Linked DNA regions of Homo sapiens. The protein of the gene in region 2 purifies or fractionates together with the protein of the main gene of each other region. This does not show direct contact. Each region holds a gene or a part of one and is shown on either strand. Other genes may lie near its edges. The genes, in order: MIS18BP1, NCAPH2 and ALDH3A2.

Region 1 (2,912 bases), on a different chromosome or scaffold from region 2:
AAGGGATTTAACCACTTTCTTAACTCCTAAAACACTATCCATTAACTTCAAGCAGTATAGCATTAGATCAAATATTGGCAACTCAAGTTCTGCAACGGCATTTTTTTTGGCCACTCCAAAATAACCCTTTCTTTTGATCCATTCTATATCCACCAAGGGTCTTTATGGCAGAAATAATCATGGTAGTTTAAAGAAAGAATTATCTTAGTCCAATTGCACTGTTCTTTTTACAGTGTTTCCGTAAGTCCTATAATTATATAACTGCTGATTATTACTATTTTATTTTATTTATTTATTTATTTTAAAAGGAGTCTCTGTTACCCAGGCTAGGGTGCAGTGGCCAGTTGCAGGCATGATCATAGCACAGTTCAGCCTTGAACTCCTGGGCTCAAGCTATCCTCCTTCCTCAGCCTCCCAGGTAGTTGAGACTACAGATACATGACACCATGCCTGCTCTGACTAAAACACTTAAGAAACAAGAAAATGTTATTAATCATTTTTTTTTTTTTTGAGGAAACTTAAACAGGACCAGTCATGATTTGTTTTTATTTCTATCATCCAGTAATTAGTAACAAACAAAAAACAAGAAACAAATACTATAAAAGCAAACTAACTTTATTTGAATAATCTAAATAGAGAACAAGGGTAGGTGAATGTGTAGCCAGAGGGAAAATATCCTATGTCAAGTTTCAAAACATAACAAGCAAAAATAAGTTTATTTCTAAAAGAAATTTCAGTGAAAGAAAAAGGATGTTTATTATGACATAATATATTGATTCCTAATGGTGGATCTATTAACTGTTTGTCTAATCTAGTCAAAATATTTAAGCTGTTTCTGCATATGTAAATAAGGCTTAAAAATTAGAGAACAAAATCTGTTCTCTAATTTTACCTAGTAAAATAATGGTAAAGCAATAAACTAAATTTACAAAGGTTTCATAGATATGCCTATCACAAGTTTAAAATAAAAACAATCAGGAGAGAAGCATGTCAACAATGTGTAATTTAATTTCAACAATGTGTAATTTAAACATTAGGTTTGGATAACAACTGGTAACAAATCCTACTCTGGCTTGGATAATAACTGCTAACAAATGCTAACTTAAAAGTTTTCATGAATTCAATAGCTACCAATACAACCTCTGTCATCCTTCTCACCTTCTCTTACTTAAATGGTAGCAAAATTTTCTTGAAATAAAAAAAAATCTGTTTGGGAAATGGTTTTCTTAAAGTAAACAGACTTGGATGCTTATTAAAAAATTATCTATATATATTTTAATATGCAAAAACAAATTTACAGATATCTACACGAGCAAAAACAATTTTCTTTACATTTTTAGTAAGCTGCAGCAATGAGGATATTTTACTTTGAACACAAACATATGAAACCTTCAAAAAAGTCCACATTTTCATAGGAAGCTACTTTACAAAGAAAATACATGTACTCCAGTTGAAAATACAAACACTGTCTGCTTTATGGTAAAAATCCCAGGAATCATATTTTCTCATTTTACTATGCAGAATCAGAGTTCGAAAAATAATAATCTTTCTCTTCTTCATCTAAAGATTCCACAGCATTAGTGAAAAGTTTTCCAATACCAGAGTTTTCTCCTAAGTCTGTAAAGAGAAGTTTAATAAAAAGATAATAAATTTCTAAAAGTACTTTCAATAAAACTGAAAACAACTATAAGGAATAAAATGCTAAGTCTGTCCACTTGAGAGCAATTAATTTTAATACCATTTAAATAAAGAACCTACCTTATAATAGAACTGAGCCACAAAAGAAAGCTGTAAGTGTATTACCTGTGTTAAATGGGGTTTTCCTTCTTGGTGTTGGAGTTGAGAAATCAGTTTCAACCTATAAAAGAGTTACTATTAATAGCTAAATGGTACCTCCTGGTGAAGTCTACCTCAAATCTAGACAAAATTAAGCATGCTTATCCCCAGATTACTTTGAACATATGCCTATAACAACATTTAATCACATTATAATTATCTGTGAAATGCATAATTCTCTTTTGGGTTTATCCAGGGCAAGAACCATGACTTACTCAATGTTGTTTCCCAGTGCTGGCAAACACTCCTCTAAGAAATTATTATAAACTAATGCTATAGCAGTTAAAGGATAGTCTATGGGCCTCCAAAAGTTGCCAAAATGTGCTAAGTAATTAAGTAATGAATATACTGGTTTGGTAAACTTAAAATATAAACACAATTTATCATGATTATATATAGTAATTATAATTACAATACTATACTGTACTATTACAGTATAGTAATTACTATACAGAATACTAATTACTGTATTACTTTTACCTACAGTCTGTTATTATAACAGTACAATGTTTTATACCAGCAGAATTTTAATTCTCTGTACTTGAAATTCTTGGCTAAAATGGTAAAGTAAATGGCAAGTTTGAAGTACATGCTCACACACATTACAATGCTTATCAAACTATTGGCCATGGCTGGCAATCCTTAAAAATCTTTTAAAAATAAAAAGTAACAGAACAGAAAATATAGTAGCCCTTAGAGTAAGTACTGTTTTAAGAAATTTTTGAGATACAAATTCATGCTCACAGACTGTGATATAAATGTATTTTTTTCTGAGATGAGGTAAAACACTGCATTATATCATTTAGACCTCAAAATCATTTGGTAACATAAATCAATATAATCATGATCCCCATTGTCATACCACACATGAATAAAATGGTATTAGAAAGCTCAAGTAACTTGCTCAGTGTCATAAAGCAAGGGAATCAAGGGGGTTCCCATAAGTTACCATTCTCGAAGATTAGCTACTTAGAGGAAATTTGAGATGAAATACTTTTTCCAGAATCCTAGTACTTATATATGATAATCAGTTATTGCAATTAAAATCAGAAAATTAAAAATTTAAAAAGTAATTC
Region 2 (3,655 bases):
CAGGTCCTGAACACCCCCGAGGTCCTTACACTCCGTAGACGACCATGCTGCTGTTTCCTCTCCCTTCCTCCCAGATCTGACAAACACCCTTTATCCTTCAAGAGCTAATGGAAGTGACTCCCCTTGGGGATGGCTTCCCAGCCTCTGCCACTCCTTCGTGCTACCATGGTGCCTAAAATCTTGCCTCTCCCCAGCACGCGCCATGCTTTGGCCATGTTTAGATCATGCTCATTTTCCTGAAGAGACGTGTCCAGTCTCTGCTAGCTGCCTTCACGTTCCCTTCATCTGTCTGGTGAGCCTCTGCGTTTTTCAGGCTTAGCTTTGACATTATCTATGCATGTGTTCATCAAATATTTACTGGACACCAGTGTCAGGCACTGAACAGAAGGCTGGAATTACACTAATGCTGCTCACACAGTTCACTAAGGGACACGATCACACTAAGGGAGCGGCACAGAGGCCCCAGGAATGGAGGGGCTCTGAAAAAGAGTTTGCGTGGGGACAGCTGGGGGTCGGTGTTCCAGGCAGATGGAAATGCAAAATTGAAGAGCTGGAAAGACACCTAGGGGCTTCAAAGTGTCGTTTGTGGCTGGGCACGGTGGTGCATGCCTGTGATCCCAGTGCTTTGGGAGGCTGAGGCAGGAGGATCACTGGAGGCCAGGAGTTTGAGACCAACCTGGGCAACATAGAGAAACCCTGTCTCTACAAAAACATTTTTTTTTTGAGACGGAGTCTCGCTCTGTCGCCCAGGCTGGAGTGCAGTGGCGCGATCTCGGCTCACTGCAAGCTCCGCCTCCCAGGTTCATGCCATTCTCCTGCCTCAGCCTCCCGAGTAGCTGGGACTACAGGCGCCCGCCACCACGCCCAGCTAATTTTTTGTATTTTTAGTAGAGACGAGGTTTCACCGTGTTAGCCAGGATGGTCTCGATCTCCTGACCTCATGATCTGCCCGCCTCGGCCTCCCAAAGTGCTGGGATTACAGGTGTGAGCCACCGCACCCGGCCTTTTTTTTTTTTTTTTTTTTAAAGTGTCATTTGCTGAGAAGGAATACAGGAGATGAGCCAGCGTTGGGGAAGATGTTGGGTAAAGTATGGAAGTAAAGTGTTTGGGGACATTTGAATGTACTCTGTGGACAGCTATGAATGCAGCCCCAGAGCTAAGGAGAGAGAGCTGGTCGGGTTGGGTTTGGGGCTCATTGGCTTATGGTTGGCAGCTTGGGCATGGGATGAAGGAATGTGCATGGCGGGGGGTGGAGCGCCTGGCGCACTGACGTTTAAGGGGTGACAGAGGAGCTGGGGCTCCGGGAGGCTGAGGGGAGCAGAGGAAGGATGGCGACTCACCTGTAACTGTTTCCTGAGTTCTCTGCTCAGAGGATGGAGACCTCAGCATTTTATCTCTGCCTTTCCTACCCCTGAGGTTCCCTTTTCTTCTCTGTGTCGGGGATCTTCCTGCTGGAGTCTGTCAGCCTCTGGCGCCTTGTGGAGGGAGCCGCTGTGCTGCCCTGGTTGTTTGTAGACAGTGTGCCCTGGGGGCCTTCCACTTCCAAAACAGGTTTTTGTTATAGGAAGTAGGGGGAAACACAGAGACCTGTCTCTGCCCCGAAATACCAGGGACAACCGGTGAGCCCACAGCATAGCTAGAGCTGCCCGTCTCGGGAGGTGCTGGGCAGAGACCAAAGATGGGTGGGGCTGCCCTGGAAGAAGCGAGTGCAGACTGGGCCTTGGATTCCCCCTGTCTTTGTGTTGTTTCTTGCAGCTGGATCAGATCTGCATTTCTTTTGACGAAGGCAAGACCACAATGAACTTCATTGAGGCAGCGTTGTTGATCCAGGGCTCTGCCTGCGTCTACAGTAAGAAGGTGGGCCCTGCTTGACGCTGGTCTTGGCATTTTGGTGGCCAGTGGGACCACAGTCGGCTCTCCTTCTGGGGCAGGTGCAGTGGTCGTCCCGTCTGTGACCTACCTCCCTCTCTCCTCAGGTCTCAGCCAATTCCTCAGCACCTTCCAACACCAAGAACAATTTTTAATTTAAAATCGCACAGCCAGGCAGGGAGGGTCTTTTGTGCTGTTGGGCTCTGTTGTCTTGGGGGAATGACACCTGCTGTGTGCACTTGGACACAGCCCAGGGTGCCACCTGCACCCACCTTCCCCTTCCCCGTCCCCTACTTGTGGGTGCCTCATTGTCAGCACCTAGAAAGTCCACAACCACCACCCTCACGGTGGGGCCTCTGTTCTGTGGAGGAGAAGGACAGGAAGTGAGTGACGGGCTCTGTCCTGCAGGCCCCGTGGCGGCAGGAGCTGGGACAGGGCAGGGCCAGGACAGGAGGAGGGGCTGGGGTGATGCTGGCGGGAGCACACGGGCGGAGGAGCAGCAGGGCTGCAGGCCGTCGGCAGAGTGGGTGCCAAGCACGAGGGGCCTCACCACCAAGGACCGTGTGATGAGGCACACTGTGGGAACCACAGTGCTGTCAGGGTCACACGTTGAGAAGGCCACGCTCGCGGCTGCGTGGACCATAGAGGGCAGAGGAGAGATGTGGGTGGCCTCAGCTGGTAAAGTAATTCTCATGAGATTCCTGGTTTGATTTGAGAATTATTTTTGGAACCAAAATTGGTGGTTTCTTGTACTGGAGGTTTGGTGGTGGTGGCCAGGCCTCGTGGGGGCACCGATGGATAGCTGGGAAGGCCTTGGGGGTGGGCCCCTCCTTTCTGGGTCCTCACTGCCTGCATCTGGTCACCAGGTGGAATACCTCTACTCACTCGTCTACCAGGCCCTTGATTTCATCTCTGGAAAGAGGTGAGTTCTGCAGCCACTCACTGTGCTGCCCTGCATGTGGCCAGGGAGGCCCCTGCAGCTCCTGGGATGCCCACGGGATGTGCTTCTCTCTCAGGCGGGCCAAGCAGCTCTCTTCGGTGCAGGAGGACAGGGCCAATGGGGTTGCCAGCTCCGGGGTCCCCCAGGAGGCAGAGAATGAGGTGAGTTTCTTTGGCATGTGGTCCCCGCCCACTGTGTGTTTGCCTGGGCTCCGCCCCCACGAGCTCTGTCTCCCTCCAGTTCCTGTCGCTGGATGACTTCCCTGACTCCCGGACTAACGTGGATCTCAAGAATGATCAGACGCCCAGTGTGAGTCCTGGCCTGGCCCCTCTTAGGCTGGGGTGAGGTCAGCACTTTCCCTGGGGCTGTGTTGAGCTGATGGGGTGTGGGAAGGTGTCATTGCCCCATGTGGGTCCTGTTCTCCACTGGAGTGGAAGGGTGCCTGGCTCACCCACCCTTGGCCTCCATGCAGGAGGTCCTCATCATCCCCCTCCTGCCCATGGCCCTGGTGGCCCCTGATGAAATGGAGAAGAACAACAATCCCCTGTACAGGTAGGGATCTGAGCCCAGCGACGGGGAGGGAGGCCTGCCTGGGAAGGGTCTCTACAGCAGGCGTGTTTTTGCCAGCACAGCCGTCAGGGTGAGGTCCTGGCCAGCCGGAAGGATTTCAGGATGAACACGTGCGTTCCCCACCCCAGAGGGGCCTTCATGTTGGAGCCAGAGGGCATGTCCCCCATGGAACCAGCGGGCGTTTCCCCCATGCCAGGGACCCAGAAGGGTGAGGGCTTGGATGCGGGGGGCTTGGTGGGAAGGAAGGGAGGGTCTTCTGGTTGGACTCTTGTGGGG
Region 3 (3,655 bases), on a different chromosome or scaffold from region 2:
GACCTAGGCTAGGTGGGCTTTTCTACTCTCTACTAGAGCTATTACAAAATAGCCGATATGTAAACATTCTCATAACAAAAACCCAACCAGAAAAGCCACTGTCTTAAAGCCCTGTTCTATCCTCTCCCTTTGTAATACCGTCCTAAGTCAGTTGCTCCATGGGATGCGATGGCCCAGTTTGGCAGGACCATCTGTTCCTGGTTAAGGAAACCTTGTCCTATGACCAAGGAGCCTTGACCTATATAGCCACAGGTCCTTGTCTAGGAGGTAAACATATTGCCAGCACCCAGCACAGTGACTGACATGAGTGAGGGACAGGCGGGAAGAGGCCAATTGGTAGGTATTGCCAGATCCAAATTGGAAATGGTGGTGGCTTGTAGAGGGTGGTAGCAGGGGAGATAGTGGAAAGGGAAGGGGGTATTTTTGGGATCAAGCAGCAGGATTGGCTGATGGAGTGAATGTTGGAGGAGGGGGTGAATGAGAGAGGATGACTCCTGGGATTTTGGCTGGAGTAAGTAATAGTTTTGTAGCCCAAATGCTTAAAAGATTGGACTCTGTTGTCTCTGTTCCTCAGCTCACCACATAGGATCCTGGCATCCACTGTGCTAGTGCAGTAATCAACTCGGTAATTGTTCCATATGGTGTCTCCACTGCCCTCTAATTGCAAATCTAAGTGACTTGGGTTCAGTCCCTGTCCTACTTGACAAGATAGCCTGTGGCATCATTGACTATACCATCTTATTTAAAACAAAACAAGGCTGGGCGCAGTGGCTCATGCCTGTAATCCCAGCACTTTGGGAGGCCGAGGTGGGTGGATCACTTGAGGTCAGGAGTTCCAGACCAGCCTGGCCAACATGGTGAAACCCCATCTCTACTAAAAATACAAATGTTAGCTGGGTGTGGTGGTGCGTGCCTGTAGTCCCAGCTACCAGGGAGGCTGAGGCAGGAGAATTGCTTGAACCAGGGAGGTGGAGGTTGCAGTGAGCTGAGATTGCGCCACTGCACTCAAACCTGGCAAACAGAGCGAGACTCCGATCTCAAAATAAATAAATAAATAAATAAATAAATAAATAAATAAAAATAATAAAATAAAACAAGCAACCTATTATATACCCACAAAAATTAAAAATACAAAAAGAAGATGCAAAAGAAAAAAACAGGTTTACTCTCTTAGCAAATTTCAGGCATATAATACATTATTATAGTGGCCATGCTGTAAAAAAATAAAAATAAAAAATAAAAACAAGCCTTGACCCCCAAATGTAAAAAGAATACAGGCTTTTTAAGAAAACTTGGAAAAGATAGAAGAGCCCAAAGAATAAACATTTATATTACCCATAACCCCACTATGTAAAGATAACTGGTATATGTCTTGCACACATATGCACACACATATACACGGTCATCTGAATATTCTATTCAAAAAGGTATCATACTATATATTGTTCTGTACCCTGTATGTGACAGAATAGTGTGACACTTTTCCATGTCAATATTCTTGCATGTCATAATTTTAGTAGCTGCATACTTTTCCATCATATGAATGTGGCATATTTATGTAACCAATTCCCAGTATTAGATTTTTGTGATTTCAATTTTTTTGGTATTACGATTCTTATATAATGTATCTTTATGCAATCTCTGATTATTTCTTTAGGAAAAATGTCTACAAGTGTAATTACTCTGTTAAAAGGGCTTATACAATTTTCCAAATTGAAAAAAATGCTTTTTTCTTCTAATTCTCAAAGTAATATAGACACAGTGGCAAAAAGTCTAAACAGTTAAACTTTTTAATATTTTGGCATATAGTTTAGATTTTTCTTTTTTTTTTCTTTTTATCGAGACTGAGACTCCCTGTCACCTAAGCTGGAGTGCAGTGGTGTGATCTCAGCTCATTGCAACCTCCAACTCCTGGGTTCTAGCAATTCTCCTGGCTCAGCCTCCCAAGTAGCTGGAACTACAGGTGTGTGCCACCAGGCCCAGCTAATTTTTGTATTTTTAGTAGAGACACGGTTTTGCCATGTTAGCCAGCCTGGTCTCAAACTCCTGGGCTCAAGAGATCCACTTGCCTTGGCCTCCCAAAGTGCTGGGATTACAGGTGTGAGCCATCGCACCCAGCCTAGGTTTTTCTTTAGAAATGCTTCTCTTTAAGACTTTTGATAGATATTTCAAGTGTCTTTGCAGATTTCTGCCACTTTATATTCCCATGATCAGTATATGAGTGTTTACTTCCTTATATCCCCAATTCTGGATTATTCCATTATTAAATTTCTAGACAGAAAAGGGTCTCATTTCAATTTGTACTCCTTTGATTATTAGTGAGTTTGAATTTTTTTTACCACTCTCATGAATTTTCTATTTATGTCCTTTGATATTTTTGCTGTGTTCACATCTTCCTTATTATTGGTATATAAATAGCCTTTTTTATAAGTAAGAAAATCCTCAGTCCTATCTGTAATACATATCCCTTTCCAGATTTTAATTTTTCTTTTAATTTTATCTATGATTTGAAGCGTTTATTTATTTAGAGACAGAGTCTCACTCTGTCACCCAGGGTGGAGTGCAATGGCGCGACCTCGGTTCATTGCAACCTCTGACTCCTGGCTTCAAGCAATTCTCCTGCCCCAACCTCCCAAGTAGCTGGGATTACAGGCACCCGACACCACTCCTACCTAATTTTTGTAGTTTTAGTAGAGATGGGGTCTCACCATGTTGGCCAGGCTGGTCCTCAACTCCTGATCTCAGGTGATCCACCTGCCTTAGCCTCCCAAAGTGCTGGGATTACAGGCATGAGCCACCACATCTGGCCTAAGCCTGTGTGGCTTTTTGTTTTTTGGTTTCCGATTTGGAAAGTAGGCTTAGAAAAGCTTTCCCTATTTCATTATTATATAAATATCATCTGTAGGCTGGGTGCGGTTGCACACACCTGTAATCCCAGCACTTGGGGAGGCCAAGGCACCTGGCTAACATGGTGAAACCCCGTCTCTACTAAAAATACAAAAAATTAGCTGGGTGTGGCGGCACCACCTGTAATCCCAGCTACTTAGGAGGCTGAGGCAGTAGAATCACTTGAACCCTGGAGGCGGAGGTTGCAGTGAGCAGAGAGTGCACCACTGTACCTCCAGCTTGGGCAACAGAGCGAGACTCTGTCTCAAAAAAATAAGAATAAAATAAATAAATAATTAAATATTATCTGTAGTTTCCTTCCCTCCCTCCCTCCTTTTCTTCTTTTCTTTTCTTTTTTCTTTTCTTTTCTTTCCATTTAACCATGGAGTTGGCCAAGCATGGTGGCTCACACCTATAATCCCAGCACTTTGGGAGGCCGAGGCAGGTAGATCACCCGAGGTCAGAATCTTGAGACCAGCCTGGCCAACATGGTGAAAACTCATCTCCACAAAAAATACAAAAAAAAAAATTAGCTGGGCATTGTGGCATGCACATGTAGTCCCAGCTACTTGGGAGGCTGAGGCAGAAGAATCGCTTGAACCTGGGAGGCGGAGGCTGCAGTGAGCCAAGATCATGCCACTGCACTCCAGCCTGGGCAACAGAGCGAGACTCCATCTCAAAAAAACAAACAAACAAAAAAAACACCCTGGAGTTCACTTTAGAATGCCATACGCTGCATGATGTAATAATTTACCTTTTTTTTCCCAAA

What was found.
Region 1: the proteins of NCAPH2 (region 2) and MIS18BP1 purify together in Homo sapiens (affinity purification with mass spectrometry; 2 studies listed by BioGRID and IntAct, with this or other methods). This does not show direct contact.
Region 3: the proteins of NCAPH2 (region 2) and ALDH3A2 purify together in Homo sapiens (affinity purification with mass spectrometry; 3 studies listed by BioGRID and IntAct, with this or other methods). This does not show direct contact.

The regions. Positions count from the first base shown.
Region 1 is NC_000014.9:45,202,596-45,205,507, forward strand, and holds the end of MIS18BP1 (mis18-binding protein 1), read right to left. Parts: intron 1,859-2,912; coding exon 1,804-1,858; intron 1,618-1,803; coding exon 1,514-1,617; 3' UTR 595-1,513; downstream 1-594. UniProt on the Homo sapiens protein: Required for recruitment of CENPA to centromeres and normal chromosome segregation during mitosis.
Region 2 is NC_000022.11:50,514,692-50,518,346, forward strand, and holds part of NCAPH2 (condensin-2 complex subunit H2), read left to right. Parts: intron 1-1,028; exon of another isoform or gene 1,029-1,056; coding exon of another isoform or gene 1,057-1,083; intron 1,084-1,755; coding exon 1,756-1,857; intron 1,858-2,735; coding exon 2,736-2,791; intron 2,792-2,885; coding exon 2,886-2,970; intron 2,971-3,049; coding exon 3,050-3,118; intron 3,119-3,281; coding exon 3,282-3,361; intron 3,362-3,436; exon of another isoform or gene 3,437-3,441; coding exon 3,442-3,587; intron 3,588-3,655. UniProt on the Homo sapiens protein: Regulatory subunit of the condensin-2 complex, a complex that seems to provide chromosomes with an additional level of organization and rigidity and in establishing mitotic chromosome architecture.
Region 3 is NC_000017.11:19,665,739-19,669,393, forward strand, and holds part of ALDH3A2 (aldehyde dehydrogenase family 3 member A2), read left to right. Parts: intron 1-3,655.